2 separate regions of the Homo sapiens genome follow, and region 1 is linked to region 2. Evidence: fine-mapped expression QTL. A gene starts in region 2. The other region holds a variant in brackets. All regions are shown on one strand. Distances are from middle to middle. Region 1 holds the start of MIR6776 (microRNA 6776). Region 2 holds the start of CLUH (CLUH binding protein of NUMT mRNA).

Evidence for each region.
Region 1: its variant is fine-mapped to the expression of CLUH in whole blood (TOPMed, PIP above 0.99). The same link has a PIP of 0.9 or more in blood mononuclear cells.

Annotation. Positions count from the first base shown.
Region 1 is chr17:2,683,011-2,695,470 of GRCh38, reverse strand. PAFAH1B1 (platelet activating factor acetylhydrolase 1b regulatory subunit 1) reads right to left here. Exons shown (of 11, transcript NM_000430.4): 11 at 9,856-12,460. It overlaps CLUH (CLUH binding protein of NUMT mRNA), which reads left to right. Exons shown (of 26, transcript NM_001366661.1): 14 at 1-97; 15 at 191-253; 16 at 370-614; 17 at 907-991; 18 at 1,195-1,348; 19 at 1,432-1,571; 20 at 2,611-2,691; 21 at 2,775-2,900; 22 at 2,989-3,110; 23 at 3,374-3,467; 24 at 3,576-3,710; 25 at 3,789-3,862; 26 at 4,694-6,084. The coding sequence ends at 4,877. MIR6776 (microRNA 6776) reads left to right here and starts at 2,552; the gene lies at 2,552-2,610. LOC105371490 (a long non-coding RNA gene) reads right to left here and starts at 7,246. Exons shown (of 2, transcript NR_188262.1): 1 at 6,901-7,246; 2 at 6,184-6,715. RefSeq lists enhancers at 3,245-3,752, 3,753-4,261. The variant A/G (reference allele first, on the strand shown) is at 5,675.
Region 2 is chr17:2,703,459-2,719,559 of GRCh38, reverse strand. It overlaps CLUH (CLUH binding protein of NUMT mRNA), which reads left to right and starts at 7,796. Exons shown (of 26, transcript NM_001366661.1): 1 at 7,796-7,998; 2 at 14,996-15,198; 3 at 16,071-16,101. The coding sequence starts at 7,899. LOC105371592 (a long non-coding RNA gene) reads right to left here and starts at 7,251. Exons shown (of 2, transcript NR_136412.1): 1 at 7,161-7,251; 2 at 6,727-7,078. RefSeq lists enhancers at 6,531-7,426, 7,427-8,323, 9,158-9,237, 10,495-10,694, 11,911-12,807 and silencers at 7,488-7,667, 7,798-7,917.

The DNA.
Region 1 (12,460 bases), 22 kb after region 2:
GGTGATGCGCCAGCGGGGCATCAACATGCGCTACCTGGGCAAGGTGCTGGAGCTGGTGCTGCGGAGCCCGGCCCGCCACCAGCTGGACCACGTCTTTGTGAGTGCTGCCCGGGGTGGGGCGGAACGGGAGCTGTGGGACTGGGATGGAGGCCGGGGGCCTGACCAAGACCTCCCTTCTGAATCCTTCCAGAAAATCGGCATTGGAGAACTCATCACCCGCTCGGCCAAGCACATCTTCAAGACGTACTTACAGGTGCCACCCGTCCGCTCTGCGGCTGGCCATGGCCTCCCAGGGTGGTGTGGGGCGTCGGGAAAGAGCCTGAGGTGGGGCTGAGGGCCCTCATGACTCGGATCCAACCTGCCTCGCAGGGAGTCGAGCTCTCCGGCCTCTCAGCCGCCATCAGCCACTTCCTGAACTGCTTCCTGAGCTCCTACCCAAACCCCGTGGCCCACCTGCCCGCCGACGAGCTGGTCTCCAAGAAGCGGAATAAGAGGAGGAAAAACCGGCCCCCGGGGGCTGCAGATAACACAGCCTGGGCTGTCATGACCCCCCAGGAGCTCTGGAAGAACATCTGCCAGGAGGCCAAGAACTACTTTGACTTCGACCTCGAGTGGTGCGTGCGGGGCAGGGGCGGTGGGGTGGGTGGGATTGGGCAGATGAGGCGGCCACCACCTGCTCCCAGATGGCGTCTAAGGCCTGTGGTCATAGGCCAGGGAGTCAGAGAGAAGAGGGAGCAGCTGTGGAGATCACTGGGTGCTGGAGGGTGAGGGCAGCCGGGAGGCTCCCGGGGGCCGGGTGGGGCAGTGTTGGGGGCCCGGGCTGGACAGCGTTGGGGAGCTGGGTGGGGCGGTGTTGGGGGGGCCCGGCGGTGCTTGGGCTGCTCAGGCCCCCTGCTCCCTCCTCAGTGAGACCGTGGACCAGGCTGTGGAGACCTACGGCCTGCAGAAGATAACGCTCCTGCGGGAGATCTCGCTGAAAACAGGGATCCAGGTGGGCATGGCTCACAGCATCCCCGCTGTGTCCCCGCTGTGTCCCCGCTGCGTCCCTGCTGCAGGCTCCCACTCCTGGCCAGGGCCACAGGGGAAGTGGCTTTTTCACGGTAGCCGTCTGTGCGCAAGCGTTGGTGGGTTGGGAGGTGCCAACCCGCTGAACCTGGGCCTGAGGCTTCCTGTGGTGGGGGGGCTGCCCCCCAGGTCCTGCTGAAGGAGTACAGCTTCGACAGTCGCCACAAGCCCGCGTTCACCGAGGAGGACGTGCTCAACATCTTCCCCGTGGTCAAGCACGTCAACCCCAAGGCCTCGGATGCCTTCCATTTCTTCCAGAGCGGGCAGGCCAAAGTGCAGCAGGGTGTGTGGCCAGGTGGGGCTGGGTGGAGGTGGGGGTTCCCCATGGCCCGTCCTGACCTTGCCACCCCTGGGGGTGCCCTGCAGGCTTCCTGAAGGAGGGCTGTGAGCTCATCAATGAGGCCCTGAACCTGTTTAACAACGTCTACGGAGCCATGCACGTGGAGACCTGCGCCTGCCTGCGCCTCCTCGCCCGCCTCCACTACATCATGGGCGACTACGCAGAGGTACCCTCTGGGCTGTGGCAGCAAAGGCCTGGCCTCGTGTTGGGGGATGGGGAGTGAGGGGGCCCCTGACGGAGGAGTGGGTGGAGTCCAGGGAGACCCCAGGAAGTCGCTGGTTCTGCCCAGGCCACCCCTGGCTCCACCCCTCTGTAACTGTGTCCCGAGCGGGAGAGCTCAGGAGCACCCTGTGCTGCGGTGAGGTCAGTTCTGGGAGGCGATGGCAGGGGACCCCCCCACAGGGCGTCAGCAAGGACGCCTCCTGAGACTCCGTGAGTGGGCAGGAAGCATGCCACCGAGCTCCCACGTCCTCTGTGCCCAGTGCAGGCTGTGGGGTTCTGGGTGCCCTGCCTGGCCGGGGCTGGTGGAGGCTGTGGTGGGGTTCTGGGTGCCCTGCCTGGCCAGGGCTGTTTCAGGGTTAGCATGTCTTAGGATCCCTACTCCCTGCAAAGGGACTGTTTTTTCTTCTGTTTATAAATGGGTGGGTTGTTTGTTTGTTTGTTTGTTTCTGAGACAGGGTCTTGCTTTGTCACCCAGGCTGGAGTGTAGTGGCGTGATATCGACTCCCTGCAGCCTCAACCTCCTGGGCTCAAGCGATTCTCCCACCTCAGCCTCCCGAGTAGCTGGGATTACAGGCGTGAGCCAGCACACCCAGCTAATTTTTGTATTTTTAGTAGAGATGGGGTTTCATCATGTTGGCCAGGATGGTCTCAAACTCCTGACCTCAAGGGACCCACCCCTGCTCAGGCTTTTTTTTTTTTTTTGTAACATTTTTAGTAGTTTTAGGTTTGTATTTGGGTGTTTGTGGAGATTTTGTTGGGTGTAAGACATGGGTGTGTGGAGCTCTCTGTGGAGCGTGACCTGCCCTTCAAGGTGTGGCAGCAGCTGCTGCTGATCCCCCTCCCCCCTGCTGCACTGTGCTGGGCGCAGCCGGAGGGGACAGGAGCCTGCAGAGCGGCACCGTGGGCTGCTGGGCCGGGGCCAGGCGGGCTCTGGGTGCAGTGGGGGTTCCCACGCCGCGGCAACCACCACTGTCTCTCCCCAGGCCCTGAGTAACCAGCAGAAGGCGGTGCTGATGAGCGAGCGGGTGATGGGCACCGAGCACCCCAACACCATCCAGGAATACGTGAGTCGCGAGTGCCGCCCGCGCCGGGGGATGCGAGGGGCTGGGTCCGCGGCCACCCTGACCTGTCTCCGCCCCGCCCGCAGATGCACCTGGCCCTGTACTGCTTCGCCAGCAGCCAGCTGTCCACCGCCCTGAGCCTGCTGTACCGCGCCCGCTACCTCATGCTGCTGGTGTTCGGGGAAGACCACCCCGAGATGGCGCTGCTGGACGTGAGTGCTGGGGCGGGGGGGCGGCAGGGACCCAGCTCCATCCCAGGGGACCGGGAGCTGACCAGGGCCCCCCACCGCCTGCCCCCAGAACAACATCGGGCTGGTGCTGCACGGGGTGATGGAGTACGACCTGTCGCTGCGCTTCCTGGAGAACGCGCTGGCCGTCAGCACCAAGTACCACGGGCCCAAGGCCCTCAAGGTGGCCCTCAGGTGAGGGGCCGCCCGTCCAAACGCCAAGGCCGGCGGAGGCCTGCGGGGCAGCCGGCGGGGGCGGGGAAGAGACCCAGTGCTCCTGTCTTCCTCCACCCGAGAAAATTTCTCTCGACCTCCCCCTCTTCCCTGAGCCCTGGACTTGCTGTTCCCCTCGGTGGCTTCCAGGGAGGGATCTACGGGAGACCCCGGGCCCCCGAGTCAGGCCCCCACACCCAGCCCACTTATGCCCTTCCCTCGCCCCGCGCCGCGCCTCCCGGCAGCCACCACCTTGTCGCCCGAGTCTACGAGAGCAAAGCTGAGTTCCGGTCGGCCCTGCAGCACGAGAAGGAGGGTTACACCATCTACAAGACGCAGGTGCGCGGCGGGGGCGTGGCGGGGGCGGGGGCGGGGCGGGGGCGTGGCGGGGCGGGGGCGGGGCCGCGGGGGCACGGGGGGGCCTGATCCCTTCCCGCCTCCCCGCAGCTGGGCGAGGACCATGAGAAGACCAAGGAAAGCTCCGAGTACCTCAAGTGCCTGACCCAGCAGGCCGTGGCCCTGCAGCGCACCATGAACGAGATCTACCGCAACGGCTCCAGCGCCAACATCCCGCCCCTCAAGGTGAGTCCGGGGCGGAGCGGCCCCTCCGGCCCGGCGAGCGCGGGAGCCCCGCTCACCGCTGGTTTCCCCGCCCCGCAGTTCACGGCCCCCAGCATGGCCAGCGTCTTGGAGCAGCTGAACGTCATTAACGGCATCCTCTTCATTCCTCTCAGGTGAGGCCTCCGCCCCACTCGAGTGTCTCCCGGTTGGGGGTTTTTTGTGAGTCGGAGTCTCGCCCTGTCACCCGGGCTGGAGTGCGGCGGCGCCATCCCGGCTCACTGCAGCCTCCGCCTCCCGGGTTCAGCGATTCTCCTGCCTCAGCCTCCCCAGTAGCTGGGATTACAGGTGTCCGCCACCTCGCCCGGCTCATTTTTGTGTTTGTAGTAGAGATGGGGTTTCACCACGTTGACCAGGCTGGTCTCGAACTCTTAACCTTGCGATCCGCCCGCCTCGGCCTCTCAGAGTGCTGGGATTCCAGGCGTGAGCCATCGCGCCCGGCCCGCCCCGCTTATCTTCCCCAGCATCCTCGCATTCCGCGAGTGAAGACCTTGGTGTTTCTGCTTCACACAAAGTATCTTGGCGTTTTCCCACCAGTCCCTAAGAAGCGGCTTCATTCCCTCCCCACGCTTCCCATCCTGCGGCGGGGGGGGGCTGAGGAGCAGGCCCCGGGCTCCCCGGGGTGGCCACAAGCAGTGTGGCCTCCTGTGGGGAGTGGATTTGGTCAGCAAGGCGTGGCAGCAGCCCCCCAACTCCGCTTTCCTCCCCCTGCGCTGGAGGGAGGCCACCGAGGGCAGCGAGGGGAGCCCCGAGGCCGGGTCAGGTGCGGGGTCCTTACCTTCTCCGTGTTCAGGGACCTTCCGCCTTCAGGAGGGAAGCGCTTGTTCACACACATTCCCCACTGAATAGAGCGCAGAGCCTGAGCTTATCCCACAGGAAAGCCGGGAGGCGGGTGGAGCCCCCAGGACTCCTCTGAGAGCCACCTCCATCCCCACCCTTATCCTCAGCCAAAAAGACCTGGAGAATCTGAAAGCCGAGGTGGCGCGGCGGCACCAGCTCCAGGAGGCCAGCAGAAACAGGGATAGAGCCGAGGAGCCCATGGCTACCGAGCCCGCGCCAGCGGGGGCCCCAGGAGACCTGGGCTCCCAGCCCCCGGCTGCCAAGGACCCTTCTCCGAGCGTGCAGGGATAGAGAGGGAGCCAGACGGACAGCCAGCCAGCGGCCCCGTCACCAGGGAGCCCGACTGCGGGAGAAGGGGGCGAGCCTGCGGGCGGAAGAGGAAGCAAGGCCCTCTTCCTCCACGTCTCACCCCACCCCACCCCCGTGTCCTCCTGGGAGCCTGGCCTGCCTGCCCCGCAGAAGGTGTTTTTGCGCTGGTTCAATGAATAGATGATGCAGAGGCCCCATTGGAGACACGTGAATGGCGTGTGCGGCCATCAGTTCCCGGCTGGGGGGCAGGTGTTGCTTCGGCCCCCGCCGTCCGGCCGGCGTGTGCGAGTGCGCCCCTGGCTGTGAGTGTTGACCGTTCCTCTCCCCTGTACATAGCCCGAGCCAGTCCTGAGTGGGTGACTCCTGAGTGGGTGACGCGCAGACGGGATTTCTCAGGTCATTTGTATGGTCGACATGATGGCTGCTGCTTTGGCTGCCACCACCCCCGGGCCCAGCCTGTCTGAAAGTTCAGGGTTTAGGCCGAAAAACCCGGTGGGGAGGGGTGGGGAGCCGGAGCTCTGTGGCGGGGCTGGAGGGCTGGGGTGCACTTTAGTTTGGGGCGGGACGGGAGCCGCCGTTGTGACTGGCGTGGTCTGGCTGCTGCTCCCGAACGGAGGGGTCGGGGTTGGCTTGCTGGGCCCTCAGAGCCCAGTGGGTGGCTCTGACTCGGCTCCCTACTCCCTGCACCCAGCTGGGCGCAGCCTTGGGGCCTGCGGTCTGAATGTATCCCTCCCCTCAGTTTTAACCTGAGCTGCCGAACGCACAGTGGGCCGGGGGCG[A/G]GGCTGGGGGAAGCGGGGCCCAATTACGGATCCCGGGAGTTACAGGTGCCGACGTGATGTCGCTTCTCTGGTGCCCAGCTCCCTTCCTGGTCTGAGACTAGCTCTGGGGGTGGCGGGGGCCCCCACACGCTGCTCCCGCTCCACCCTGCCCGTGCTGCTGCTCTGTGCCTGCTGTCAGAGCCCTGGTGGGGGAGGATGTGGCCACCCTGAGACCCGGAGGAGACGGGCGTCTGCCTGGGTTTGCGGAGAGCCGCTTATGGGTGTGGTCCGTCCAGACACCTTGTTTCAAGGGGGATGGGCGTGAGCGGGCAAGCAGAGCATCCCCACCGCTGAGCAAGAACTTTTTCTTGTTTTTAAACCATCACGTCCTCATTTCACATTGGAATAAAGTGAGTTTTTGAAACCTGCGGCCCCAGGCTCACCTGTGTGTTCTGTAACCCGGTCTGGGTGGATGGTGAGGGCTGACAGGAATGTGACTGGGAGAGGAATAGATACAAACGAGGTCAAGTTCGAGGTCACGCTTACATTGTCACTTGAGTGGGAGGTAAGGGGGTGGAATCACAGGCACTCAGCTGGAATTCACCGAGCTGCCAGTCCGTCACCAGGTTCGCGGGAGTGTCGTGCAGGTGAATGTCACCTGTCACCAGGTGCAGAAGAAACTGTGAAGGCCAGGTGGGGAGGGGTGCTGGGCTGTGGGGCCAGGCCCTGTGCATGCTGGACCCGTGAGGTCACTGAACACCCCCCTGGCTGGCCACCTGCCCCTGTCTCTTCACTCGAGGTAGGAAGGAGGGTGGGCAGCACTGCCCAGAGGTGAGACACTGGGGGCAGGGAGGAGGGCCTCAAGTTCGCCACCCTCGGACAGGATTCAGAGAGCCAAGACCCAGGTGGACTTGAGCGGCAGAGCCTGTCTCTAGAGGGGAAGTTGAGCTCTCAGTAGCTGCTGACCGCTGCTCGCCATCTGTCTCCAAGAGCAGGCCCTCGGCCCCACCAGGAACATACGCCTTTTGGGATGCTTGGAGAGATCTGTACGTCTTGGAAATTCTGAAAAGAAAAAAATTCCATCCCTGAGTCTGTCAGTTTTCCTGAGCCAACCGGAGAAAAGGTGCTTCTGACCTGGCGGTTTTAGGTGACACCCGGGGACAGCCACCAGCGAGTGAGTGTCCTGCTACAGAACCTCTCAGACTTCCCAGCAGCCCCAGCCCAGCAGCAGCTTCCTTTGCTCTCACCGGTGTGTCCTGAACATTCTGTCCCCTCTCCTGAGTGTTTGTTGTTGAACGTGAGCCACATGTTCATGCACCTCTCAAAACAGGGCCTCCTGTGAAGCTGAGAACAGATCGGGGTTGGTTAGGGTTGTGCCTCCTTGTCACCTGAGAGGCCCCTATTTCCTGGCTGATCCTTTAAGCGTATTAGTGCCCTCAGACATCTTTTGACGACCCAAATGACAAGGGGCTGTTTTCATAAAGCAAATGGAGGCCCTAGGTGTGAAATCCACTCTTTCTCCTTCCCTTCTTTTAGGTGACAGGTTTCAACTTTTTAAAAAGTGGGCCAGGCGTGGTGGCTCACGCCTGTATTCCCAGCACTTTGGGAAGCCAAGGCTGGTGGATCATTTGAGGCCAGGAGTTCAAAACCAGCCTGGCCAACATGCTGAAACCCCATCTCTACTAAAATTACAAAAATTAGCCAGGTATGTGATGGCGGACACCTGTAATCCCAGCTACTCGGGAGGCTGAGGCAGGAGAATCACTTGAAGCCCAGGAGGCTGAGGTTGCAGTGAGCCGAAATCACGCCACTGCACTCCAGTCTGGGCAGCAAGAGTGAGACTGTCACACACACACACCCACATACACAAATTGGGGAAATTCCTATATATCCTGCAGCTGGAGAGTAAGGCATCCTGATGTGGCCCAAATTTTCCTCTCCCCTACCTCTAAGGTCTAAACTACCAAATCAATCAGGACCCCCCCCTCCCCACAGAGTGCAGGCCCAGCCATCCTCGAATGGCAGGTGAAATGCCCTCATTTGTGGGAGTAAGCCATTATTTTATTTTTGAGACAGAGTCAGTCAAGGTCAGGTGACCAAGTGGGAATGAAGATCATAGGACATCGTCACAAAGGGACAAACTCCACATGTTCAAAGTGAGGATAGGCCGGGCGCGGTGGCTCACACATGTAATCCCAGCACTTTGGGAGGCCGAGGCGGGCAGATCACAAGGTCAGGAGTTCAAGACCAGCCTGGCCAACATAGTGAAACCCTGTCTCTACTAAAAATACAAAAATTAGCCGGGCACGGTGGCACGCGCCTGTAATCCCAGCCACTTGGGAGGCTGAGGCAGAAGAATTGCTTGAACCTGGGAGGAAGAGATTGCAGTGAGCTGAGATCATCCCACTGCACTCAAGCCTGGATGACAGAGTGACACTCTGTCTCAAAAAATAAAAATAAATAAAAGGATGAAAGAGGAAAGATCGGGATCCAGACCTGAGCTGCGGGGCCAAGAGACCAGTGATGTGCCCAAGTTTCTTTGGTGAGAAGTTGAATCATTTAGCTCGGTGGTTCTCGAACCTGAGCCTGCCTCAGTCATTGGAAGGGCTTGTTATAATAGATTGTGAATCAAGCAAGCAAGCAGGCTGCACCGCTTCCACTCAGGGGTTCTGAGGCGTGAGCTCCCAGGTGCTGCTGCTCTGCTGAACCAGGGAACACACTTTGAGGATGCCTGTCCTAGAGCTTCTGGTGTATCAGCAGTTAAGAACCGTCTGCACACAAGTCAGGTTTCACCAGGCTAGGCAGGGACAGAGCTGCCACAGCCAGCTACCCTCCCCCTGCATCAAAGGCCATACACAGTCATGACTCCTGGAAGGAGGTTTGAGGCAGTTACAAGCCAGCGAGTTACTTGCCAGGTTTTGAACAGCTAACAGCATTTCTGGATAGTGATACTAACGCTAGAACTCTGCCCCTGGGGCCCTATCATCTGGATCTCAGCCTGGAAGAGTCTTGCAAGGAAATGGAAAAGCTGCAAAAGTGCAGGGAACTAACTTCAGGCCAATTTCTTTGTTTTTTCTTGCTTTTTTGAGCCAGGGTCTTGCTTCATTGCCCAGGCTGGAGTGCAGTGGTGCAATCCTGGCCCAGTGCAACCTCCGCCTCCCAGGTTCAAGTGTTTCTCCTGCCTCAGCCTCCCAAGTAGCTGGGACTACAGGCACCTGCTACCACGCCTGGCTAATTTTTTTTGTATTTTTAGTAGAGACGGGGTTTCACTGTATTGTCCAGGCTGGTGTCAAACTCCTGAGCTCAGGCAATCTGCCCGTCTCGGCCTCCCAAATTGCTGGGATTGCAGGCGTACCACTGCGCATGGCCCATTCCTTTTTTGCTCTGGGCCAAGCTCCTATTTTGGGGCAGGCTACTACTCCCAATAGGAGGCAGGAAAACAGCTGGGCTGTAAGAAAGGAACCAGCACATCACCAAACTGTCCTTTGTAGGGCACCTTGAATACACCACAGATACAGCCATGTGTAAAGTGCAGAGCTGGGGTTTCTGGGACAAAGATGAACACTCTTATTTTGTATGTTTCAACCAAAATCGAAAACAGTATTAAGGATTTACTTTTATGATTCCAAGACCACTGAGCAAGATTAGAGGCTAACAGAACAAAGGGGGTAGGGCCCCATCTTTTTTTTTTCCTTTTTGTGGAGAACGGGGTCTCGCTATATTGCCCAGGGAGGTCCCGAACTCCTGGGCTCAAGCTATCCTCCCGTCTCTGCCTCCCCAAGAGCTGGGATTACAGGCGTGAGCCACCGCGCCCGGCAGGGCCCCTTATCTCTAGACTCTGTCCCCAAGAGTCTAGTCTTGGGCCTGTAACCAGCCATCCTGGCTTTGGCTCTCTGGCCACAGCGATAGCCACAGTCAGAACGGGCTGCTGGGAGGGTTGGGGAGAGCGGGCCTGTGCCGCAGACGCATGCCATGGCAAGGCTCAGGCTGAGGCACTCCCTCCTCCACCCGGGGGAAGGGGGACAGCAAAGCCAGTTCGGGTGCTGCCCTGAAGGAAAGCAGCTCATGAGGCCTTACTGCCCTGACACCGATTCGTGTCACTCTTTGTGACTGGAGCTACACACAGCCCCACTTTCTATCAGCATTTCCCCTGTGCAAAGGAAGACAAAAAAAAAAAAAAAAAAAAAAAAAAAAATCACATCTAGTTTTATAGGCATTTAATAGTTTACCAGTTGGTACAATAAGATTTTTTAATATGCAGAAAACATGAATAAATTTTGTTTTACACAGTCTGAGAGCAACAAATCTTACTGTAAAACACGAGAGCAATATTATATACATTCCTTTACTGATTTTTTAAAATTGTGTCAATATCTTCAGTGAACTCTTAACAATCTGGGGAACTGTTTTCCTCAATTACCACTTCAGCAACGTTCATACGAAATCAAGGCTTGCCTTCATGTCAGTGTCAGGATCAACTTTAACTCGAAGAGTTTGTGTTTGTCTCTAACATCTTCAGAGTGAGCTTTAGGGATGCCTGAAGGATGGACAGTACAAGCAAGCAGCTACTTCCATGATACAGTGGGAAGATAAAAAGGCCCATTCAGTCCAGCCGTGACCTGTAAATCCAGCTTGCCCTCCCCCCACCCCACTGGAAAAAAAATCCAAAACCTTTTTCCACCAGTTTTTTACATGTCGCTTCTCTACCAGGAGATTCTTTGCGTCATCTAGATGAACACACTGGACTTATATACAGCTGGACATGAAAGTAACCAATTTAAGTGCCTTTTCCTTCAACAATTTTAACTTCAGTTGCTTAAGGATGATCGAGCCACCGATGTCAACAAAATATCCTTTACCTTTAAATAGTTTTTCTTTAATTAAGTTTAAAGAAAACCTATTTAACGAGTGATATTACCGGGAAAGTTCACACAGAAACAGAAAGAGGCGAACGGGAGAGCAGGGCACTGGCAGCGGGGAGGCGGGGCTTGGTAAATCTAAAGCCAAAGCTTCCAAAGACTACGGCGAACGCTCCCCAGCCCGGGACGACTTGCTAACACTAGTGATTTTGAGAGTAGTGCTCTGGGCACACCATTGGTCACACCACACACAGACGAACCAGGACGGTCTTAGTCTCCTAAAGTGCAAGATGCCGTGACAACAGGCAACTAGGCTCCACGCGGTGTCTAAACCAGTCTCCATGGCATGCACTCTCAAGAGCGCAGCTAGGATTTCTTGGGCACGTTACAGATATATATTTGGGTGGCACTGGAATGTCTGTTTTCACACACACACACAGTCAATAATCATCTGAGGATGCAATTCTACCAGCTCTTTATTTCTTAAGTGGCCAATTTGATTGAGAAAGTGACAAAGCAGCAGTGAACCTCTAAACCAATTAATAAAAGTCCTCTACTTACAATCCAAACCAGTAACCTCATCATTGTCCTTATCCCAGGCAAGGCACAGGGTTAGACAGCAGACAGAGAAAACAGAGAACACAGTCAGAAAGGGCATCAACAGGACAGTGTCAGACAGCAGTGCAGGAAATTTTGCAAATCTGATTCCAGGTTGTAGACGGACTGCTCTCCCCCACCCCTTCGTTATTAAACAGGGCTCATTACATGTGGACCCAGTTGTGGGCCATCCCTGAGATTCAATGTTCGCTGCTTCTCACATGGAGGATGTCTGGTAACTCAACTCAGCAGCAGGCTGTGGCAATCTCCCAAGTAAGGATAACTTTGTTTACAGAGTAATCGTTTCCTCCTCCTTTGTCAACGCAAGTCGCTGTGTGCTGCAGGGGAAGACACGCTTGCTTCCTCCTGCATCGGTACCATTCTCCTTTATTGTTCAATATCTATGAGTGATTTCTAGATGTTGTGGCTTACCCTTAAACAATTCATGCTAAAAATGAATTAAAATACAAGACATTTATACATGTACAAACAAATGTTAAGATGCACCATTTCTATGTATTTATATTTCTCAAAATAGGACAGAAAATAGCAGCAAACAAGAACAAAGATATTTTCCATAGTTTTTGTAGAAAAATCCAGTCAGAAGAGCTAAGGGAAAAAGACTTTTCAATGTAAGCAGGGTTGTGAGGCAATATTGTCCTGAAAATTCACCTACTGTATGTATTTAAGGAATTAGCTTAAGATGTAATTTTTGTCCTCAAAAATAGCCATTAGTTCTCAAAACTTTCCCTTCCAGAGACATCTCTCAGGAATCTAAAAACAAACAAGCAAACAAACAAAAAGACACAAGCTAGACATAAAGCTGCTTCTAGTTAATATACGGCCTAGTCTCTGTGTGTATCTACAGGACGCTAACTCTCACCCTTTGTCTTTTGCAGGAACCAATTTTCCATTAAATACTAAAGGGGACATTTAAAAAATCACATAGTACACAAATGAATAAAACGCAGTTCAGAATTTTATCTTTGTTAAACTGTCACTGTTATCTCATTGTTCTGTTAACTTTTCAAATAACTCTCTTGGAAACAAAAAAAACCTGTTGGTTAGCTAAGCAATGGAATTCTTTATTAATAACTGACAATGGAATAGTGCTCCAAAAGTCATGGCTAAAAATTCTCTTAAACCTACCTGTAACTTTGGGTCAAAATATACAACATATCCGGGTTGTGTAAAATGTCGAGCGGCTAAATTAGAGGGGGACATAACGGAAGTGATTTTCCTTCGGCTGGAAAAAAATCCCCAGAGTCAGACCTAGTTTTCAGAAGCATTAAGATCAAAAAGGGTTTGTTCTAAAGCATGGCATTCCACAGCAACATTTATTCTACTTGTC
Region 2 (16,101 bases):
TGGAGAAGGACAAACTCTTGGGTGGCTAAAATGGCACCCAAGAAATCTGGCAGGTCATTTGCCACTACAAGGGGTAAAGCTGCCTGAGTATAAAGCTACCACAAGAGAAACAGAATGGCTGGGCGCGGTGGCTCACGTCTGTAATCCCAGCACTTTGGGAGGCCGAGGCGGGCGGATCACGAAGTCCGGAGTTCGAGACCAGCCTACCCAACGTGGTAAAACCCCATCTTTACAAAAAGCACACAAAAAAAAGCCGGGCATTGTGGTGGGCACCTGTAATCCCAGCTACTCGGGAGGCTGAGGCAGGAGAATCCTTTGAACCTGGGAGGCAGAGGTTGCAGTGAGCCGAGATCATGCCATTGCACTCCAGCCTGGGCGACAGGGCGAGACTCCGTTCCAAAAAAAAAAAAAAAAGAGAGAGAAACAGAACAAAGAGATATGGAGACAATTCCAGATAATCAAGTCACTTGGATCCAGCCATGCCCGAAGCTCACAGACTCCTACCCTTTTCTGTTACATGGATCAATAAATCCCCTCCCCCTCCCAAACTTAGGTGTGGAATTTTTTTTTGTTTCTGTTGGTTTTGTTTTTGAAATGGAGTTTCACTCTTGTTGCCCAGGCTAGAGTGCAATGGCACGATCTCAACTCACTGCAACCTCTGCCTGCCGGGTTCAAGGGATTCTCCTGCCTCAGCCTCCTGAGTAGCTGGGATTACAGGCATGCACCACCACGCCCGGCTAATTTTGTATTTTTAGTAGAGATGGGGTTTCACTATGTTGATCAGACTGGTCTTGAACTCCCGACTTCAGGTGACCCGCCCCCTTGGTTTCCAAAAGTGCTGGGACATGAGTCACCACTCCCGGCTGTTTGTTTTTTTTAGAGACAAGGTCTCACTGTGTTGCTCAGGCTGGACTTGAACTCTGGTGCTCAAGGGGATCCTTCCACCTCAGCCTTCTGAGCAGCTGAAGAGTACAGGCCTAGCTAACAACACACACACACATGTATATGTATACTCAAAATATATATATATTGACACAGTCTTGTTCTATTGCCCAGGCTGAAATGCAGTGGCCACGTGGAAAATAACACACCTGGCCAGTTTTTTCCTACTTTTTATTTTGAACTCAGTTTCTTGCTTAAGCCTCTAGACTCAGGTTTGGGCCCAGGATGGGCTGGGACCAGGACCTGCAGCAAGCCCAGGCAGCCTGGCCCAGGCCTCTTCTTGTTCTTAGCCTTTTATCTCCTGGGGCAATTAGGGAACCGAAGGCCCAGCCTTGGATAAACATCTGCCCAAGACTCTTGAGTCTCATGTACAATTTCAGAAAACGAGAAAAGAAAGGGAGCGGGGCGCAGTGGCTCATGCCTGTAATCCCAGCACTCTGGGGGGCCAAGGCAGGCGGATCACTTGAGGCCAGGAGTTTGAGACTAGCCTGGCCAACATGGTAAAACCCCATCTCTACTAAAACTACAAAAATTAGCTCGGCATGGTGGCACAACCCTGTAATTCCAGCTACTCTGGAGGCTGAGGCAGGACAATCGCTTGAATCTGGGAGGCAGAGGCTGCAGTGAGCCGGGGTCATGCCACTGCACTCCAGCCTGGGCAAGAGAGTGAGACTCTGTCCCAAAAAAGAAAAGAAAAAGAAAGAGAAGTGTGGGGAGGGCAGGGCACAGGCATTAGAGTTCCCCAGACAGACAGACCCCTGGGGATGCTTGACTAAGCCCATCCCAGAGTCACAGTTCAGGGTGGAGATATGGAATGTCAAAACCAGATAACTGTTTTGTTTGTTTGTTTGAGATGGAGTCTCGCTCTGTCACCCAAGCTGGAGTGCAGTGGCACCATCTCGGCTCACTGCAAGCTCTGCCTCCTGGGTTCACGCCATTCTTCTGCCTCAGCCTCCCAAGTAGCTGGGACTACAGGCACCTGCCACCACACCCGGCTAATTTTTTGTATTTTTAGTAGAGAAGGGGTTTCACCGTGTTAGCCAGGATAGTCTCGATCTCCTGACTTCATGATCCGCCCGCCTCAGCCTCCCACAGTGCTGGGATTACAGGCGTGAGCCACCGCCCGGCTGTTTTTTTTTGAGAGGGAGTCTCACTGTCACCCAGGCTGGAGTGCAGCAGCGCAATCTCGGCTCACTGCAACCTCCTCCTTCCGGGCTCCAGTGATCCTCCCACCTCAGCCTCCCGAGTAGCTGGGATTGTAGGTGTACACCACCCATGCCCAGCAGATTTTTTTTTTTTTTTTTTTTTTGTATTTTAGTAGAGCCAGGATTTCACCATGTTGGCCAGGCTGGTCTCGAACCTCTGACCTCAAGTGATCTGCCCACCTGGGTCTCCCCAAGTGCTGGGATTACAGGCGAGAGCCACTGCGCCCAGCCTCAGATAACTCTTAAAGATCATCTGTGCAACCCCTTCATTTTACACATGGGGAAACTGAAGCTCAGGGCATCTTGCTGGCGGTTACCCCTTCCTTCCTGGCAGTTCTGCCCATGCAGTTTTGGGGTTGAGGGAGGTGGAGAACTTCCTTTCTAGGGGTTCCCAGAGATTGGCCAGGGAAGTAGGGGACTCTGTGCCGCAGTCGAAGGGATTTGGGTTCCCACATCACCTCTCCAGCCCCCTAGGGAACTGTGCAAAGGAGGGGGAAATAGGAATGTAGGAATGGCCTGCTGAGTGGGTGTATCCATGATAACAGTAATTAGGGAGGTGGGAGGCTTTGAGCGGGCTAATTATGCAGGCTGGGTCTCAGACTAGATAACCCTCCTCCTTATCTTTATGCAGGGACCCAAAAGATAGGAAAACTGCAGTGCTCAGGAGTGCCATGAGGTAGCCCTAAGGACGCCTGCTGTGCAACAGGACCCTGCGAGGGAAAGGGGAAGGGATCCACCAAAGATAAACTGCAGATTATTTTATTTGTTTGTTTTTGTTTTTTGAGGCGGAGTCTTGCTCTGTCACCTAGGCTAGAGTGCAGTGGCATGATCTTGGCTCACTGCAACCTCCGCCTCCTGGGTTCAAGTGATTCTCCTCCCTCAGCTCCCAAGTAGCTGGGATTACAGGCACCCGCCACCTCACCAGGTTAATTTTTGTAGTTTTAGTAGAGACAGGGTTTTGCCATGTTGTCCAGGCTGGTCTTGAACTCCTGACCTCAGGTGATCCACCTGCCTTGGCCCCCAAAGTGCTGGTATTACAGGCGTGAGCCACTGCGCCCGGCCTTAAACTGCAGATTCTAAAGCTGCTGGGACTGGTTCGTCACTAGGCCCATGGACAAACTGGTCACCGATCCCCATGCTGACCGGTAGGCACTTACGGACGCTCACTGACCCTGAGGAGGATAGGGAGAGGTGCCTCCGCTTGGCATCCTCCGTGGGCTCAGGCTGGTGGGTCTCAGTCAGGCATTATGGAAATGATCTGAAGTTCTAGACACAAAGGTCAAAGCATACAGTACACAAAAGGAGTGTCTGAAAGGAAAGCCAACTGTTATAAATAATGGGGGACTCAGCCAGGCACAGTGGCTCACGCCTGTAATCCCAGCACTTTGGGAGGCCAAGGCGGCAGACCACCTGAGGTCGGGTGTTCGAGACCAGCCTGACCGACATAGAGAAACCACCTCTACTAAACCCATCTCTACTAAAACCCTACTAAACTCTACTAAAACCCTACTAAAACCCATCTCTACTAAAAATACAAAATTTGCCAGGCCTGGTGGCGCATGCCTGTAATCCCAGCTACTGGGGAGGCTGAGGCAGGAGAATTGCTTGAACCTGGGAGGCAGAGGTTGTGGTCAGCCAAGATTGAGCCATTGCACTCCAACCTGGGCAACAAGAGCAAAACTCCGTCTCAAAAAATAAATAAATAAATAAATAATGGGGGGCTCAAAGGTGAAACCCCAGGCTGCCAGCAATGCTGCCCCCCCACATCCTGTGGAGCCCTCAGGGCCTGGCACCTTCTACACTGAAATCATTCACTCAGTCAACAAATGTGCATTAAGTGGGGTATGGTCGTGTGCACCTGTAATCCCAGCTACTCAGGGAACTGAGACGGGAGGGTCACTTGAGCCCATAAGTTGGAGGCTTCCGTGAGCCGTGATCATGCCACTGCACTCCAGCCTGGGCAACAGAATGAGACCCTGTCTCTAAAAATAAAATTAAAAATAAATAAATGTGCATTAAACACCTACCATGCATTGGGCTCTGGAAAGATGCTGGGAACACCCAGATAAATAAGTTATGGTTCTTGCCTTCAAGAAGTCCCCAGGTCGGCCAGGCGCGGTGGCTCATGCCTGTAATCCCAGCACTTTGGGAGGCCAAGGCGGGCGGATCACGAGGTCAGAAGTTCGAGGCCAGCCTGACCAACATGGTGAAACCCCATCTCTACTAAAAATACAAAAATGAGCCGGGCATGGTGACGCATGCCTGTAATCCCAACTACTTGGGAGGCTGAGGCAGGGAATCACTTGAATCCGGGAGGTAGAGGTTGCAATGAGCTGAGATCACGTCACTGCACTCCAGCCTGGGCGACAGAGCAAGACTCCATATCAAAAAAAAATAAAAAATAACAAAGTCCCCGGGTCTAGCAGCTGGACTCCTCACCCAAGACCCAGACATCCCAGTATGGCCAAGAGGGTCTCAATTTATGCCTATTGCCCCTGTGTCATTATTAATAGGTTCCACTTGCACTCTCAAAAGTGTTCTGGTTTTAATGATAAACTATGCGATCACCTTAACCATAGCACATTGTTATAGGCAATGGTGGAAATAGCTGGGGAAAATGGGAGTATGTGCTGTTAAGACTATGATGGAGGCCGGGTGCGGTGGCTCACGCCTGTAATCCCAGCACTATGGGAGGCCAAGGTGGGCAGGTCACCTGAGGTCAGGAGTTCAAGACCAGCCTGGCCAACATGGTGAAACCCCCTCTCTACTAAAAATACAAAAATTAGTCGGGCATGGTGGCGGGCGCCTGTAGTCCCAGCTACAAGGGAGGCTGAGGCAGGAGAATCGCTTGAACCCGGGAGGCGGGGTTGCAATGAGCTGAGATCTTGCCACTGTTCTCCAACGTGAGCTACACAGCGAGATGCTGTCCCAAAAAAAGACTATGATGAAAAGACTTTGGTGGAAGCTGTGTGAAAGCAAGAATCAGTCTGCTTAATGTGTGGTCAGAGGTCAGACCACCAGACTATGGAGAATGTGATCAGAGGATGATTTTTTTTTCTTTTCTTTTCTTTCTTTGCTTTCTTTTTTTTTTTGAGACAGGGTCTTGCTCTGTCGCCCAGGCTGGAGTGCAGTGGCGAGATCCTGCAGCCTCAACCTCTTGGGCTCAAGTGATCCTCCTACCTCAGCCTCCTGAGTAGCAGGGACTATAGGCGCACACCACCACACCCAGCTAATTTTTGTATTTTTTGTAGAGATGAGGTTTTGCCATATTGCCCAGGCTGGTGTCCAACTCCTGAGCTCATACAATCTGCTCTCCTCGGCCTCTCAAAGTGTTGGCATTACAGGCGTGAGCCGCCGCACTCGGCTGGATGATGCTTTTTATACGTGTCTGTTTCTCTAACCCCAGGCTTGCTGCTCTTCCCCAACCCCCAGGGTTAAAACTGAGCTTCCTATTATGAGTAGCATTAGCAACATGCACGGGCTTCCAACTTCAGCTGCACTGGGCCACTAGGCACAATTCTCAAAAACCCTGGAGTTTCATGAATACAAACTAAGTACCCATCAGTCAGGTGACCGGCTAAAAGAATTATGGTACAACCAAACAATACAACATTATCCAGCGTAAATGGAATGAGAACACCTACTGAAAGCGTGTAAAAAAAAAATCAGAGTGAAGAATAGCAGGTACAATTTTCTGCACATTTGTGTAACAAAAGAGGAACGAGTGTGTGTATACACATACGTATATACACACGCACACATAAGTATGTATGTGTATATATACACACATATATACACACTTTTATATATATTGATTATAAATATATATATTTTATATATACACTTATATATATACACACTATATATATACACACACTATATATATACACACTATATATACACACTATATATATATACACACACTATATATATATATGCACACTTTTTTTTTCTTTTTTTGAGACGGAGTTTCTCTCTTGTTGCCCAAGCTGGAGTGCAATGGCGCGATCTCGGCTCACCGCAACCTCCACCTCCTGGGTTCAAGCGATTCTTCTGCCTCAGCCACCCGAGTAGCTGGGACTACAGGCGCACACCACCATGCGCAGCTAATTTTTGTATTTTTAGTAGAGACGGGGTTTCACCATCTTGGCCAGGCTGGTCTCTAATTCCTGACCTCGTGATCCGCCCGCCTCTGCCTCCCAAAGTGCTGGAATTACAGGCGTGAGCCACCGCGCCCGGCTTTTTTTTTTTTTTTTTTTTTGAGACGGTGTCTGTGTCACCCAGGCAGGAGTGCAGTGGTGCGATCATAGCTCACTGCAGCTTGGAACTCCTGGGCTCAATCTGAGCCGTCCTGAGTGATACTCCCAGCTCAGCTCCCAAGTAGCTGGGACTACAGGCGCGTGCCACTACACCTGGCTTTTTTTAAACAATATTTTTTGTAGAGACGGGGGTTTTGAAATGTTGCCCAGGTTGGTCTCAAACTTCCGAATCCTGAACTCAAGTCATCCGCCTGGCTTCGGCCTCCCAAAGTGCTAGGATTACAGGCGTGAGCCGCTGCACCGCCCGGCCGAGAAGAATCTTACCAGTTCTCATCTTCCTTCCTCCCGTTTAAATGCTCACATCAAGTCGCTGGCTTTCCTCACCACGTGCTCTCCAGAACAAGGTCGGCTTTCCTTCGCAATTTGTGCGAGGCCCTACCTAAGGCCCTCCCAGCCCACCTCGGGAAGCTGAAGCTTTCCAGTTCTCATTAGAGCTTGACAAACGCTCCGAAGGTTATAGGCCTCGGGTGCTTCCCAAAGGCCCCCTGCGGCCTGGCCAGGAAAGACCCACCGGCGCTCTCTGCCTGGAGCACTTCAACTCACTGCAAGACCTGGTCCCAATGTCCCCTCTGCAGCATTCTCTGACCTCACCGTTCCGTCCCCGCCAAGCCCCTGCCAAGTGAAAAATACGAGTTAAAGCGTCCTGGCTGTGGATGGAGTCAGACCCGGCTCTACCCCTTGCTCTCTGTGTGACCTTGGTCTCGGCCTCCTCCACTGTAAAATGAGGACACCAGCCTGGAGGTGAGGACCCATGGGTCGAGGACGCGGGTAGGGAGCCCGTTCTGGCTCGGGGCAAAGTTTGGCGGGTCCATTCTGACTCTTGATCCCCATTAGCCACGTCTCGCCCTCGCCTCTCGTGCCCGTGCCCTAAGCGACCCTCCACTCCCTCAATAATCCAGCCGCACCCATTCGGCGGGAAAGGGCCTGCCGGGTGGGGAGGGCGCTGAGGGTCACGCGAACACCGCAGATGACAGACTGCGCGGTCATTTAGCAAATCTGCAAGAGAAAACAGGGGATCCTTGGAGAGGGGAGGATTAGCCATGGCAGAACCAGACCAGTCTCCACCCAAGGTCACAGTGCCCGCCCGACGGGCAGCGAGCAGCAGGGAGTCTCCCCGAGGCCCCGCCCCGCGAGGGCGCCCAGCCTCCCTGGGCCTTGAGTCAGAGTGCGTTGCCTTTAAGACGTTCTGGAAAGTCACCGCGTCCGTGGGCGGGGAACCAGGCGCGGCGCGTTTTGTCCCTCGCGGGCCGCCGTGGGCTGGGCCGGGCGCGAGGGTGGGGCAGGGAAACGGCGGCGGGGTCAAAGGCCACGGCGCGCACCACGTGGGCCGGTGACTCCGTCCTTCCCTCAGCAGCCGCGGCGCGCAGGGCACTTGGGTTAGTGGCGCGGCGGGCGGCGCGGACAGCCGAGGCGGACGCCCGCTCCCGCCACCATGGTTATCAAGACGGACGAGTTGCCGGCGGCCGCCCCGGCCGACAGCGCCCGGGAACACGGCTCGCAGGCCGGGGGCAAGGGGCGGCCGGGCGCGGCCGGTGAGCGGGGCCAGGGCCAGCGGGCCGCTGGGCGGGGGGCGCCGGACCAGGGCGGGCGGGTTCGGGACTCCGCGGGGATCGCCGCCTTCCCTCCGCGTCGGGCCCGGTTGTATCTCGCTGGGGCCTTCACCGGGTCGCCCCCGCGCTGAAGGTCACCTTCACAGTCGCCCCCGGCTGCGGCCCGGGTTTCGCACGTGCGGTCCCGTGGAGGGCAGCCTCGGCTGGCACCCTCGGCGGGCACACGCGCGCCTCATCGCGGGGACACGTGCGCGCACACGCGGTTTCGGGGTGCGCCGCCGCCGCAGACCGAAAGAATCGGCGGCCCCACCCCCTCTGCGCCCGAGCATGGGAGCTCTCTGAGCTGGGGTCGCTCCGACGTTTGCGGGACAGCCCCCTTCGGCACCTGCTCCGCGGCGGCCTCCCAGGCATCCCCTGTGCGCAGGGCTGCAGCCCTGGGAGTGAAGCTCCGCTCGAGGCTTCCCAGGCTTGGTTTGTGGGAAGAGCACGAGGTGCGGGGTGTGCGTTGTGAGGGGCGTCCCTGGTTCATGCCCTGAGGCCAGGCTATAACCGCAGGTCTTCAGGCTGTGGCGGAGACTCTCAGGTGTGTTGGCCTGCTCGGCCGACCTGGTGTAGGGGGCGTCTGCCTTTGCATGGGGCAGAGCCAAACTCCTTGGCAGGGGGAAGTGTTTGTGCCAGAACTTGATCATTAACCTGCCTTATTGCGAAAAGTGGGTCAGACCAGAGTTGCTGTTTTTAAGGCAAAGGTCGTTAGTGTGGAGTCAAGCTCCCAGCGATCCCCCATGGGGGCTGTATGGTGGTGACTGTGGCAGTGGCTGCAGCTTGTCTCGGGTGGGGCCTGCTTTCCCTTTCTCCTGAGCCCCTTCTCTTCCTTCTGTTCCCTCCACCGTGTCTCAGACTCCAGCCTTGGGGCTGGAATCCCCTTCCCAGGCCCTCAGTCGTCATCTTCCTCAGGCCCTCTTTGCTCTGGGTGGCAGTGGAGGTGCAGAGCTACTCCTGTCCCCCAGTCCCTCCCTCCTCCGTCGACTGTCCTCAGTTGGGACTTGTGGTCTTAACGCCTCATCATCTCCCTTCCTAGCTTCAGTGAGTGCGCCAGGGCTGACTTGGGAATCAGGATGGGGACAGCGTTCAGCCCTCTGACCCTGTTCCCATCATAGCGGAGTTGCCTTGGGGTGAGGGACAGGTGCTGGGGCAGTACTGCTGATTGTCTAGACAAGGCCAAGGTTTGGGCAGAAGAGCAGATGCTCATCGCCCCAACCTACCAGGCTTTGTGCTGATGTGGCTCTGAATCAGTGGGGGCAGGCTGGATGAGAGGAGGTTGGCTGATTTCCCCTCTAGCAGAGACCCGAAGAGTCGAAGTGACTTGCCCAAGGTCACACAGCGATTTAGCTGTTAAGGGAAGTGTTTGGATTCCAGCTCATGGCCAGCAAGCCAAGGCTGCCGTGGCCTGGCCCAGAGGAAGCTGGGACAGGCGTGTTGGTTTGGATCCCGTGCTGAGAACTAGGGGGCTGACGAGCGTCTGTTGGAGGATTTCTGTGAGGGAGTCAGTGAAGCCCCTTCCTAACTCTGCTGGGGGTGGGGGGGCTCTGTCGGGGGTAAACTGAGTCAGGGAAGGGCACAGCTATTTGTTTTGGGGAAACTGGGAGCATACTCGTGGGCAGGACATGGGCTCCTACGTCCCTGGGAAGGTAGTACAGCTAGCTAGGACTTACGTTACAGCCAGCCCGGATCTATTGAAAGAAGGAAGGAGCCTTAATGAAGACCCCCCAGCTGGGGCCCACCTGAGCATCAGAACCAAGGCTTCTGACCTCTGAGATCCAGCTCTGGAAGGCTCTTCAGCCCCCTTAGGAAGGAGCTGATCTAGGCCATTGAGGGTCGGGGGCAAGGGTTGGTTACCTTCCTGGGAATACAGCGGCTTTTAGGGGTTAAGAGAACAGGCAGGTTTTTCAGGTCCACAGTGGTGCGTCAGGTTCCTTCTGCCCAGGGGAGGGCTCCCTGGAGTTGAGGCCCAGAGGGGGAGGAGGAGGAGGCTGGCAGCTGGGGAAGGAGTCTAGGGGCTTATGGGAGCTCCGCAACAGGATCTTGGATGGGATGTGGGGAGAGCAGCCTGAGGAACTCTGAACTGTCCTCAGGCCCTGAACGCCTGCCTCTGGCCTGGGTGGGACAGGAAGGAGGCAAACAGGTGCCTGGTCTGTAGGTTCTTCCATAGGCCGCCTGCCCGCCCCATTGCCTTTCCCTGAAGCCCTGGGCTCCCGGGACGGGTGATGCACCTTTTCGGACCCTACTTCCTGCTGGAGCCTCACTTGCTGAGGCCTTGGCTGGGGCGTGGCCTGGCCCTGGCACAGTCTTCTGAGTGAGATTGTGCCTGGCTTGGGCAGCACACAGGTCCTCTGGGAGGCCTAAGTTTCTTTTCTAGTTCCTCCTCTCTGCCGCCTTTGAGCTCCCGGCGCCTCCAGGCCGGGGCAAGGGTGTGCTTTGTCTCTTCACTAGCATCTGAGTTTGCGTGTATGCAGAGTGCTGTTGGGGCACGGCTCTCCCGCTCTGCAGAAGACCTCCTTTTCCCCTCCCCTAAAGCTCACATCCTCAGAGGTGCTCCTGGACTATGAGAGGAGGGAGTATTGGCCCAAGGGTGTAGAGGCCTTGGGGAGTGCTGTGACTGGGATAGTTCTGCTCCCCCCCCCCCGAGTAGAGGCTGAGGCCTGGACGAGGAGGCAGGTGCAGCCTACCTGTGGGTGCTGCCGGGCCCCTCGGGAGGGGGTGGGTGGGCTGCGCTGAGTGGGAGTGGGTCAGTGGGAGCGGGTCCATGGGAGCGGGTCGGCGGGAGCAGGTCGGTGGGAGCGGGTGGGTAGCCCGCGCTCAGTGGGAGTGACTCAAAAGCCATGGGCTTGGGCGTCTGACACTCCTGTTTTTTCTTTCCTTTTTTTTTTAAACTTAATCCCAAATGTGATAGTAACACCTGGTTTTTTCTTGCTCTGGGTTGGCTCCTCTTGCCTCTGTGACCTTGGGCAGCTGCTTCCTAGCCTTCTGGAGCCTCAGTTTCCTCAGGTGAGATGGGCTGGCACGGCGGTTTAGGGAGCTGCCGTGGGCTGGGCCTAGCGTGAGTCCTGGCTCTGTGGTAATCAGAGTGCAGGTGGTTGTCAACACTTCTCTGGGGTCACTGCCAGGCTGCCCTGCCCCACCCCTCTCTCCGGAGGGTTAGGGTGTATTTCAGGAGAGGGTAGGAGCAGAGGGGCTCTGTCTAGGCCTGGTCCTTCTCCTCTGGTCATTGTGTGAGACCCAGAACCTTCCATGGGGGCTGTGAAGCAGCCCAGGGTCTGCCTGATCCCTGGTCCTGGAGGGGAGGGGATGGAGTGAGAGCCTGGCTCCCGCCCACCCTGGGTAGGGTGGATGCTGGGGCAGCCCTTACTGGGCACTGGCAGCATGTCAGAGGCCCTGGGAAGGCGCCCTGGCCAGCTGGGCACCTCCTCCCCCGCCGTGCGGCCACTGGCCTCTTGCTGCCAGCTCTGTTCTCCCCTGGGAGAGACTTGGTTCCCTCCTGGCAGAGCCGGGGCTGCTGGGAAGGGAAGATGGAGCCTGCCAGCTTCTTGATGGAGCCTGGAGGCCAGGGGCACGGGTGCAGTTGTCCTCTGGGAAGCTGGGGGCCCATCCCCCTCCCTTCCACCAGAACCAGTGACTCCCAGGAAGGGGCTGGCAGCCAGGTCACCTGCAGGGGGCAGCAGGAGCCAGAGGTCCCAGCCAGGCCCTTGGCCCAGGGACAGTGGGGTGCTCAGTGTCTGGGACTGGTGGGCAGAGGCAGCCACCTTATGGCCTGGACCCGGGTCTGTGCCAGCTGTTGGCGGCAGCTGGCAGAAGCGGTCCTGTTCACCCCCACTGGGATGGGAGCGGAGGAGAGGACCCCCTTGCTGGGCCCTGCCCCTGCCAGCCAGTCTCCTAGGCCCTCAATCTTGAGGGGTCCAGGTACCCCAAATTCTGGGTTCTCCGATCCCCCTAGCGGCTTTGCCGGCAGTGACCCCCTCTCTAGGGGGCATAGGGAGGTGGGCCTGAGTGCTGATAGCAGCTCCCCCTGGGGTCCTGGGGCCACCGGGTTCTCCTGGCCCACAGCCGTCCTTCTGGCCGACCTTGAGCGGGATGCCAGGCAGGGGGAGTGTGCCCTTCCTGGGGCTGCCATGGCAGGCCTGGCCCCACTGAAACCCGAAGCCAGCCGGAGCTCCAGCCCCGGGCCGACTGGCTGCATTAGGGCAAGGGTAGCGGCAGAGGCTGGAACAAGGAACCCGGGCAATGCTGGGGCTGAGCTGGAGAGCTGGCTGCCTTGCTGCCACGGCCATCCTGAGACTCCAGAGCCGAGGGGAGGGCAGCTGCCAACTGCACCAGGTGAGCACCGGGACCTGGTGAGCCAGCCAGCTGCCTGCGGGGGAGATCGCTCAGCCTTCATCCAGGGGTGGGGAGACCTTCGGGGTTCCTAGGAGGAAGGATTAGGGTAAAACATGCTGTCCTGGGGAGAGGAGGCCCCTTGGGAGCCAGCTGCATTCCTTTGAAACGGGATAGGGAATAGGTACCCCCTGAGGGTCGTCTCCCTGGGCTGGGGAAGGAGAGTGGGAGCCGCGGCCACCTTGCCTTGTCGTCCCTCCTTTCTGTCCTCCCATTCCAGACATGCGAAAGAACACAGGCTGTCTCTGTCTAGGTATTTGACTCCCCACTTTTGGGATCTCATAGCTCAAAACTGCTGTTCTATATTGGGTGGGGGCCCTTCCTGCTTCTCCCCTTATTCCAGGGGCTTGGCAGCCAGCACAGCCTTTCTCAGGGACCCTGTGGGGGCAGTTCCTCCACCTGGCTGCCCTGCCTCTTGCTGTTTGCAAGCTGACCGACCACCGCCCCGGCTGTCTTTCTGCTCTGTCACTAGAGTCAGGCAGGTGTGTGGGGCTGCTCACGTGCGAGGGGATTGGGGGTGCCCTTCCTGGGGCGGTTGGATCCTGGAAGGGAGGTCTTTGTACATCCTCGTGGTTCCTGGGAGTCCACTGCAGGCTTGGAGAGGGTGGGGTGGAGAGCCATGACATGCACAGTTACTGAAGGTCCTCAGTGGCCAGAGTTGAGGGAGTGCCGCGGCGTAGGGTGCGGGCTGCAGGAGGGAGTCTGGGGCCCATTCTGACTTGGTTGACCTTAGGCCAGGCTCCGAGCCTTTCTGGGCTTCAAATACCCCTCTTTGGGGTAAGGGGGAAGAGACTCTGAGCTCTTAGAGGTCCTGTTTCTCGTTTGCTCGTGGGGATCCAGGGAAAGGGAGCGACTCTCTCCAGGCCCCCCGGTCTCTGCCTTTCCGTACTGGCCTCATCCCTTCCCTGAGGCTCCTGCTCCGTGTTTCTGGTGGGTCCGGATTGGGACCACACAGTTCTGGGAAAGGCACCTGTCCCCGCTCCTGAGAGCCGGGTGGGGAAGGGGAGGTGGGGTCTAGATGGGATGGGCAGAGCTGGGCGAGCTCTTCTTTCTGGAAGGGAACCCAGGCACTCCTCAGAGTTGGGACCGTTGAACTTCAAGCCAAGCCAGGCAGGTGAGCCTGGCCCATGGACAGATCCTGGGGGCCAAGGTCCTCATCTCCTAGATGGGTGCCCAGGCAGGCCCGTGTCTGCTGGAGGGTTACTGAGAGGCGATCCTTGGCTCCTCAGCGGAACAGGGGGTTCTCCTTTGTTCCACTGGTGCCTGGGTAGGAATGCAAGGTTTTGTCACCTGCTCCCCACCCTGGAGCATGTGGATTGGGTGCTGTCTTCAAATATTGGATGTAGCTAGAGGTTTGCAGTAAGTACTTTATTTGTTGCCTTTTTTGTTGAGCCTGGGCAAGATAGAAGGTGGTGGGTAGAGCTGCTGGTGAGGACGCCACCCTGGGTGCAGCCGAATGTCTCTGGGAATGAAAGGGGGAGGGAGTGTGATTCTGCCATTAAGGGTCATTTGGGCAGGCTGTGGAAAAGGTTTATTTCTCCTAGGCCTTGAAGGGTGAGTCAGTGTTTGCTGTACAGAATGGGATGTCAGGGGCAGCACAGACACAGAAGCACAGCGGTGGGAGGGCGGTGGGAGGGCTGTGGGCGGTACCAGGCTTGCATGGTGTGGTGTCCTTAGACCTCAGCAGGGAGCAGGCAGGAGCTGAGGCTGACTTCAGGTGGGTGCCTGAGAGCGCTGGCCTGAGAAGCTTGGTCTTGTAAGCAGTGGGCTTCCTAGGAGGGTTGCAGGTGGCACTGCTGAAATAGAGGAAATGCCTGCCCTAGGGCAGTGGCTGCAGAGGCCGGGTCCCGTGGGTGGGTTGGGAGATTTAGGGTGGGTGACTAGATAGAGCAGGTGCCAGTTTGAGGAGGAAGATGAGTTCTGTCCCTGCAAGACGAGGCTTCAGTGATGCCTCAGGGACAGCCACATGTTGATGCCTGGGAGGCAGCGGTCTCCTTGGTCCAAAAGGCTGGAGAGAGGACAGGATTGGCCGTGTGAGCCACGGGGCAGGAGTGTATGGGAGGGGGTGGGGTCAGAAACAGGAGAGGCTGGGCCTAGGCACTCCCCTGCAGCCCCCCTGCAGCCCAGGACCACAGCTCAGGAGGGATGGAAGAGGATGGAGCTGGAGAGGGAGGGGCAAGGGCACTGTGTGGGGTCAGAGAAGAGGAGAGGAAGAGGGGAACTGCTGCTGGGAAGCTAGGTGTGTTAGGGCCGGAGGAGACCCTCGGGCTTGGCTTGAAGGGTGGCTTTGGTGACCCTGGGGAGAGTGGTTTGGGACATGGGTTCAGGTGCAAGCCATACCACAGTGGGCCAGGGAACAGTGGCTGGGAGGGGCGGCTGGGTGTGGAAGTGGCCTGCAGGTGCACGGAGGGCGAGGCGCGACCGTGAGGCTGGGACTCTCGAGGGCATGCAGATGCCTTTCCAGAAGGCACGTGTCCCCGTGTGGGGTCAGGCGGACAGCCCCGCCGACCAGCGAGGCTGCCTGATTCTGACCCGTTCTTGTCACCCGCAGAGCTGCCATCAGTCATGCTCTTAAACGGGGACTGCCCAGAGAGCCTGAAGAAGGAGGCGGCGGCGGCCGAGCCACCCAGGGAAAATGGGCTTGACGAGGCCGGCCCGGGAGATGAGACCACCGGCCAGGAAGTCATTGTCATTCAGGACACGGGCTTTTCTGTGAAGATCCTCGCCCCTGGGATCGAGCCCTTCTCCCTGCAGGTAAGATGGAGGAACGGGTGCTGGGGGCCAGGCCTGAGCCTGCTGGGGAGGGTGAGCTGGAAAGCTCAGCCTTGCTCGTGCTCCTACCGGCCCCATTTTGTGGCAGGAAACTGAGGATCCCGTGCCCTCCCTAGAGTCACTCAGCTAGCGTGGTGGACGTGGGAATCGAGCCCAGGGTCAGGTCGTTGCCCCATTGCTAGAGGACAGCAACCAGCTGGGCCTGCCAGCCCTATGTGGGGAGGGGAGTGATAGTGGCTGGGAAGTGTTGGCATCCCAGGACTCCCCAGCCTCTTGCTCTGTGCCCTCAGGCAAGTCACCTCTCTCTGGGCCGTGATTTTACCATCTGCCAGAGGGGAGGGTAGTATTGGGTTATCTCCAAGGGCAGAGCCAGCGTGGAGGTCTTGCAAGCCGGTGACTCAGTGGGGAACGAGACAGGGTCGTCGTATGTCTCGGCACCCGCAGGCTTGGGCCCCAGAGCACCCCTTCTGGAAGGGGAAAGCCATTTGCCCCAGGCACCTTAGCACTGGGCAAGGCCGGGGGCGAGCCTGCCGTCTTCTGTCCCGCTGTTCTTCATCTCCCTTCTCTGCTCGGGCATTGCTCTGGGTCTGCAGGCCGAGTCGGTGGGCCAGGCTCCAGGCTGCACACACAGGGCATGGCATGTGTGGACATGGCCTGGATTTAAAAGCCAGAAAGTGGGATAGCCGATATTCGAGTATTTGGGGCATTTATTCTGGGGACCAAGGTACTTTGGGCTGGGGACAAGGGGATATTGTCCTTGCTGTCCGCTACGTGGCCTCTCACCGGGGCGGTTGGGGCCTTCTCTCCCCGCTACGTGCTCTCTCACCGGGGTGGGCGGGGCCTTCTCCCTGCAGGTGTCCCCCCAGGAGATGGTGCAGGAGATTC